2 linked regions of the Homo sapiens genome follow. The protein of the gene in region 2 purifies or fractionates together with the protein of the main gene of each other region. This does not show direct contact. Each region holds a gene or a part of one and is shown on either strand. Other genes may lie near its edges. The genes, in order: CDH8 and CTNND2.

Region 1 (3,834 bases), on a different chromosome or scaffold from region 2:
ATATTGTGTTCTGAGATTATCATTGGCCCCAGGATCTGGATTTTACTTGGATAAGCTAAAAGTGAAATTTCTGAAAGAAAGAGGACGTATATACCTCATTTTTTTTTTTTTAAAAAGTGCTGTATATTTAAAAGCTGTTTTTGAATGGAGTCTTGAGAATTTACTTTCACTTACATTGGAACTGGGATTATCACAATGTTTTCAGATAGTTGCATATGACTGAATGTGATATGAAGTAAAAATGGTCACTTAATAGTGCCTCTTCTCTGTTTTAATAATTTTCGGATAGCTGGATGGTTTCAGTTTCTAAAATCAGTTCTGCAGATAGATGCTTTATCCCCGTCTTCTAGGCAAAGTAACTGAAACACAAATAAATGAGTGAATTTCTTCAGTTCATGTAGTTAGAGAAACCAGAATCTTAGCTTTGTGTTTTGTTCTTTCAAAAACCTATGCTTCGCCGGGCGAGGTGGCTCACGCCTGTAATCCCAGCACTTTGGGAGGCCGAGGTGGGTGGATCACAAGGTCAGGAGATCAAGACCACAGTGAAACCCTGTCTCTACTAAAAATACAAAAAATTAGCCGGGCGCCGTGGCGGGCGCCTGTAATCCCAGCTACTCGGGCGGCTGAGGCAGGAGAATGGCGTCAACCCGGCAGGCGGAGCTTGCAATGAGCTGAGATCGCGTCACTGCACTCCAGCCTGGGCGACAGAGCGAGACTCCGTCTCAAAAAACAAAACAAAACAAACAAACAAAAACCTATGCTTCTTTTTTATCATTAGTTACTTCTCTTAGTTAATTTTAACAGAAGGGAGCATTGAAACATAAAATTGTAATATCATTTAATAATCAGAGGCTATTGATAATTAGAAGAAAATATGGCACAAATAAGTTTTAACATAAATAATAATGACACCAAATGTAATAGTTTATTTGTTAATTAACAAAGTTTTGTGGACAAAAATGATACATACTGATCCCTTCTGTGTCTCAAGAACTCCTTGTATGTGAATGGAAACTTCCATGAATTATATATTATTCAAATTTTTTTAATAAAAATGCTAATGAAAATGTTAACATGTGCATAAATTAAAATGATCCTAAATTAGGATTAATATCACATTAATGAATTATAATCCCACATTCATTAAGATAAAGTGGCATTTCAATATTTGTTCATGTTAATACATTTTATACAATAAATGAAAGGGATACATTTTGAGAATCAATAAATATTTGATGTAATCTTATGCTTTAACTTTAAAAAATATTCAAAAGTAAAGTAGGAGATCTAGATGCATTTGGAATCTTTGTTGCTATTTTATGTCTTTTTTATAAGCCTTTCTTTTCACTTATTGAAGGGCTTAATACAATTTAAATTGTTGAAGAACGTGAAAGAGGCTGTTCTGAATAAAAGGGATCCCAAGAGAACACAGCATCTTTTGAATTTCTAGGAGTTTCTTTCCACAAGGCGGTTTTTTTTTTTTTTTTTTGGAACAAATATTTGAAATCTCAACTGGAACTATATTGGCAGTTAAGTAACTGAGTTAAACTGAAAATATGTACATTGAAGTAGTACATCGCAATGGGCTTTTCTTTTAAAAATTCAAACCCCCAAATACATATATTATTGTTTTATTTTATTTTAGTTTTTTAAAACAGGAGAGACACCGTGTATAATATTAGAATACTCCTGTCTCCAGCCTGAGAGAAAATTGTCAGAACCTTAAAACCAGGGATTCTGTTTTCCCTGGTACCTACCAAAATGTTTTAGGCAGACTATTTGCCTGACACACAAATTCAGTAAATATTCATTGCTATGACCAAAAATGGATTTGGGTTCATGGTGAAAAGTTGTCATTTTCTGAAGGGGTTCCATTTCTGGAAAATGTACTCCTAAATTCTGGCCTCAGTGTTCTTCTCTATAAAATGGGAATGATTTTCCTGGACTAGACGAATTGTCAGAACTAAAGGAAAAAAGACTTTCAAAAACATAATATCTTAATATCAGTCAATATATTAGAATTACTTTTGTTTGTATAAACATCACAGGCAGATCTGAGTTGAATTCTGGATCTACCATACTTGAGTCTGTCAAATATAAACCTTGGAGAGGTAAATATGTGCCTCGTTCAGCATCAGTTTTCTTATGTGTCATATGAAATATTCTTAACCCAGTTTTTTAAATAAAAAGGATATGATTATATGAGAAGTGATTCACCTAGTCCTGGGCATACAGATAGTGACCCATAAAAGGTGACTAATCATAATAATTTAAGCAAATGTAATAAATGGAAAATAACACATATATTTTTGTATTTTTCTCCTTGACCTTTTTATCATTCTAAAAGCATGTTGTTTTATACTAAACAGGCCAGAGTACTTTTTAAGGACTGTTCTAACTTATTTAGATGAATTTCATTATATTTTATTCTTAATTGATATCCGCACAGCTGCATACACTTTGTACAGCTACTATTAGCAGAAATTGATGATGTTATGTAAAAAGAACCAACTTAATATTCAAAAAGGAGGTAGTTAAAAAAATAACTTTTCAGATTGCTCCATCACTAACTAATGCCATTTTTCATTTCAGCTACACACAGACCTGGATCCTGGGAGCAAAAAAATCAAGTATATCCTATCAGGTGATGGAGCTGGGACCATATTTCAAATAAATGATGTAACTGGAGATATCCATGCTATAAAAAGACTTGACCGGGAGGAAAAGGCTGAGTATACCCTAACAGCTCAAGCAGTGGACTGGGAGACAAGCAAACCTCTGGAGCCTCCTTCTGAATTTATTATTAAAGTTCAAGACATCAATGACAATGCACCAGAGTTTCTTAATGGACCCTATCATGCTACTGTGCCAGAAATGTCCATTTTGGGTATGTATGCTTCCAATTTCACAGATCTATTAAAAGTCATCTTTAGAATAGCTCCTGGCATCAAGGATGGTGTATTGCTGAATGAAAGACATTTATTACCACCTTATCTCTAATTTGCATTTCCAAATCCCCCTTTTTGGCCTAAGTTCCACAGCTCAGTAGCTTTAGTCCCTTAGTAACAGGAACTGATGGAAGAGCAATTTTATTAAAATATCTTTCCTTACATGACAATACTTCAATAAGCTGAATTTGTATTCCTCTCATAGACTTGTAGTTTGAGTATTGTTACTGAGGCAGATTTATCAAGATTTGTTCTAACATGCCAAGCTAATCCTGTTGATATTTGCTTGATGTTTAATTATTTGTTTGTGTATATTCACATGCAGATGCAGCACACAGAGAAACAGAAAGTCATCTAGGTCTGTAGTCAGCCAGATATTAGGTTGCTCTAGTGGTTCATGTCTAGGGTGGATTAGGCAATCGACATTACCAAGGGCCTCTGTATTTGTGTCCATCTTAACAACATTTTTTAGGAGTGACTGCTAGTACCATTGACCCACTCTCAATTTTTCTGAGTCATTGAAGACTCCATCACATATTACAGAGCAGTCTGTATTTCAAACATGATTTTATTCTTGTTTCTCCCTCTTTGGAATCTGCTTATCTATCCCTAAACCCCTGCCATGATGATAAGAAACCCCTCAACCCAGACATTCTATAATAAAAGGAAGGATTTTAGAGCTCTTCCTTGTATGATAAAAGTAGTAGGCAGAATCTAAAGTTCAAAGTATAAGATTACAAAAGCCATTTTTTAAAATGTGTAGTACATATCCAAGTTTGTTTCAAGTTGCATTTAAGACAGCCTATAAGGGTGCATGCTATGTAGTAAAGTCACATAGCTTTGAAGCAGGTGAACAAGGTGAGACAAATAAACACAGGTAGAGATA
Region 2 (3,834 bases):
TTTCAGGCAAAGGGAACTTAATTAATGTAACACTGCTGGCCTCTCTCCAGCTTTTCACTTTCTCTGCCTCTGAAGAATAAAGAAGCAGCTTGCCTTGCTGCTTCTCTCTTCCTCTGGAGATCATCCTCCCTGCAGAGAGCAAGGCTTGGCTCTGCCAGCTCAGAAAAAGCTCTGTCCCTGTGGGGAGGGAGGAGGGAAAGAAGGCAGAGGACCTGGGATGTAATTCAACTGCCACACCAAGCTATGTCTAATCAAAACTGATATTTTTGCCCATGGCAGCCAATTATTTATCTTTTTCCCTTCCAATATCCCAACATGCTGAGATGGGGAGTGGGGAGGAGGAGAGCTTGATATTTATTTGATTCCTTAAAGACACCAACAACCCACATTCCTGCACATTTTGTAATTCTTAAAGTAACTATATACCTTTCTGTGGTTTATGTAATTGCATATTTAAATGCAAAGAGATAATACAATAAAGCATTTGTACATTATAAGGAGGTTTCTAAACCAAAAGAAAGAACTGCATAAAACATGCACAAAATGCAGTTTTCTTAAAATTTCTAATGACAGTTGTGATAATCACATCTGTTAAACCAAAAATGTTACTAATACACTTCTCTGGCCTTTACCTAGGCAAGAGAAGTGTATTTTCTAATATCAATGATCCAATTAATTGTTCCCCCATCATCTAGTGTTATAAAGTAAACATCCTATTTAGTAACATTTCTGTATCATTCAAAACTTGTAGAAATGTTACATATATTTATTTAACCAAATATAATTGGCTCACCTGCTTACTTTGATCCAAAAAAACAAAAAAACCCAGTAAGGCCTTTTATCATAACATGTATTTTGCTCTGGTAACTTATAATTGGCAGTTCCCACAACAACACATAAATTTGAATACAAATAACCACATTTATTGTAAAAATGTTTTTCTGACTGAAGATAAATTTGTCCCCCATTATACAGCTCACATTCTGAAACAAATTCCAAGATACATCGAATCGTAATTATCCTAAAAATTATGTTGCTGAAGATCACAGTTCTAAATGAAGCCCCTCTGGGTTTGATCATCCCAAGGAGCTGGACATCTTCCAACCTGGAAGAGCTGGGCACTTTTTTGTCTTCACTGAAGCTCTTAAGAGTGAAACAAAGCAAAAATGACCATCTATTTTCAAAGAGGTACCAATTCACACACTTTTTAGTTCTCTTCAAGGACTTGATTTTAATTGGGGAGGGGGTCTTCCCTTTATGTAATACATTTAGCTGTTTAAGGTTTCTTTTTTCTCTATCATAATGACATGATGATGAGATTCATGCTCGGTGGTTCTAAACAGAGCGGATGTGTAATATCTGACCTCACAGAGAGTGATGCTTATTAAACTGTCTATGATAGTCTTTGTACAACATTAATCTTTGTAGAAAATTTGATCTTAATCAGGTGACTAATATAACACTAATAAAGAATATCAAAGTTTTGTAATTTCTACTGGGTTAGAATCTTTTATAATAATGGTGTTGGGAGATATAATTTACTTCTCCTTTAGCTTAACTGCTATATACTTTAATATATAAAGGGCTGGTATGTTTCAGAATAGAAAGTTTAGCATATTTTATAAGCAAATCTGCATAATGAAGCAATATTACAATAGGGGTTGGGGTAGGGAAATTACAGCCATTTAATATCCTTTGTTAGAGAGGATGGTAACCTAGATAACCTATTTAATTAGATATGTATAAAACATTAGTACCTGTCTTAATATGTATATATTGATTTCTTGTGTTCACATAAATTTTGTAATTTACAAGCCACTTATCCATGCTCTTACTCACTTTATCCTCAAAGAAATCTTTTAAGATATTGTGTCTTATTCTACCCATTTTACAGCTGAAGAAACTGAGTTAACAACTGAGGATCACATAAATGGTGAGGGATACACAGCTAAGAAGAGACAGGGCTGGAATCCACCAAAAGCCAGTGCTCTCTCCACATCTCTGTACCCACCAGAAGCAGAATGCAAAACAGCATTACACTAGGGAAACTTATTTTTCCAATAATTGTCATTTCAGATCACAAACATATTTCTAGAGAAATAGTTGGGCTCTGACATATAACGTGTTTGTGTGTGTGTGTATGTGTAACTTTATTACAAAATATTGTAATATATAATATATAAGAACCCAATAAAATGTTTCAATATATGTAATTCATTTTGCACGTAATGTGCCAAGAGAGACAGGTGAATATTTATCTAAGATAGAAAGGTTCTAGGAAGCATTGTTTCACTTATTTAGTCATTATTTCCAATTTGTCAAAAACTAATTGATACAGGTACTTCAATATCCTGACATAGCTAAGACACTTCCTACAAATCAATTAACCATGATTCAGAGCTTGGAATTGCACTTAACTGCTATGTGATCAAAAGATAAACAACTGGAGGTGTCATAACTGCAGATTTTTGTTATGAGTCTTAATATTTAATGGACTAAAAAGCACAGTATGATAAAATATTTCTGTGAGTTCCCTGTGTTGGAGGTACTGTTTGTGACTATAACTGAGTTTATTAAACCCAACCAGGCAGTTTGTTAATCAGTAGGCTGGATTGGCAGACAATGTGATAGAAACTATTTATTGATGACATGTTTAATATTTTATATTAATATAAAAAGCTGTTGCTTTGGCATATAATCAGATAACTTGAAGCTAGCAACAAGTATCATGAACTGTTCCTACTCAAATTAACTTTTCACACACCAGAAGGCTATCAAAGTACTGTGGACAGGAGAACACCTTCAGAAGATGAATGAGGAAAACCATCATGGAAGCCAACAATGAATTTGGCTTGGCAGTGTATTTCCAACTTGCAAATCAGCCAGCAAAGAACCACACCTTCAGCTGAAGTACTGGACTTGAAAATGACTAGCAGTCCATGCTTAGTTTTTGTTCATTGTCTGAATTATGACATCCAAGTTTAAGTACTCCCAACTATGTTAAGTCTTTTAAAAATAAAAACTCTGTTAGGAAAAGTGAGACTAGCATCAAGGATTTCCCTCTAAGAAGTGAAAATAATGTTCGCACAGAGAAAAAACAAAAATGGGTGTTCCCATTTTCTGTGGCTAATCATAAAGAAGAAAACATTGGAAGTTCAAAATGTAACAGTTTCTATTTTAATTCAATTGGCTTGTTACAGCTGTATACACTGGTCCATACATAGTGTACTGACCCTATGGACAAATTACAATAAATTATTTCAAATGTAATGTTAATGTTTTCTTAAAGACAACCTGATGAAATTACTCTGAAAACCCCTTCGACAAGTCCACACAAATTCATACCACACAAGAAAGAAGTCTGATAAGGCAAAACAGAAAAGAGCAAGTTCTGTAACATTTTCTGCAAATACACTGCATATTCAACTAAATGCCAAAGTAATATTATATTTGAGATTATAACTTCATTTTTAATTTTAGAAACTATTATGAAAGCAATATTATCCTTAGAAATTATTTAACAAAACTATAAATTGCATTTGCAAACTAGTATTTGAATTTCATTTTTGTCTCTGATGAACAATTTCACTGGGAGAAAGAATTGGCTTATATTCTATTGTGAAAGATGTAAAGTGGATAGAAATACTGTAATTTGACAGTGTATGACTTTTATTACGAACAATGAAAACATTAGTGACATCTATAATGACTGGGTTATACAACTACACAAACGTACACCAAATTAAATAACTCCTTTCCGCAAGACTATGACAATTTTATTAGGGCAACAACCTCACGTACTTACCACAATTGCCATTCAATCAGATAATATCA

Evidence for each region.
Region 1: the proteins of CTNND2 (region 2) and CDH8 purify together in Homo sapiens (co-immunoprecipitation; one large-scale study listed by IntAct). This does not show direct contact.

The regions. Positions count from the first base shown.
Region 1 is NC_000016.10:61,900,232-61,904,065, reverse strand, and holds part of CDH8 (cadherin-8 isoform 1 preproprotein), read left to right. Parts: intron 1-2,592; coding exon 2,593-2,887; intron 2,888-3,834. UniProt on the Homo sapiens protein: Cadherins are calcium-dependent cell adhesion proteins. They preferentially interact with themselves in a homophilic manner in connecting cells; cadherins may thus contribute to the sorting of heterogeneous cell types.
Region 2 is NC_000005.10:11,897,887-11,901,720, forward strand, and holds part of CTNND2 (catenin delta-2), read right to left. Parts: intron 1-3,834. UniProt on the Homo sapiens protein: Has a critical role in neuronal development, particularly in the formation and/or maintenance of dendritic spines and synapses. Involved in the regulation of Wnt signaling.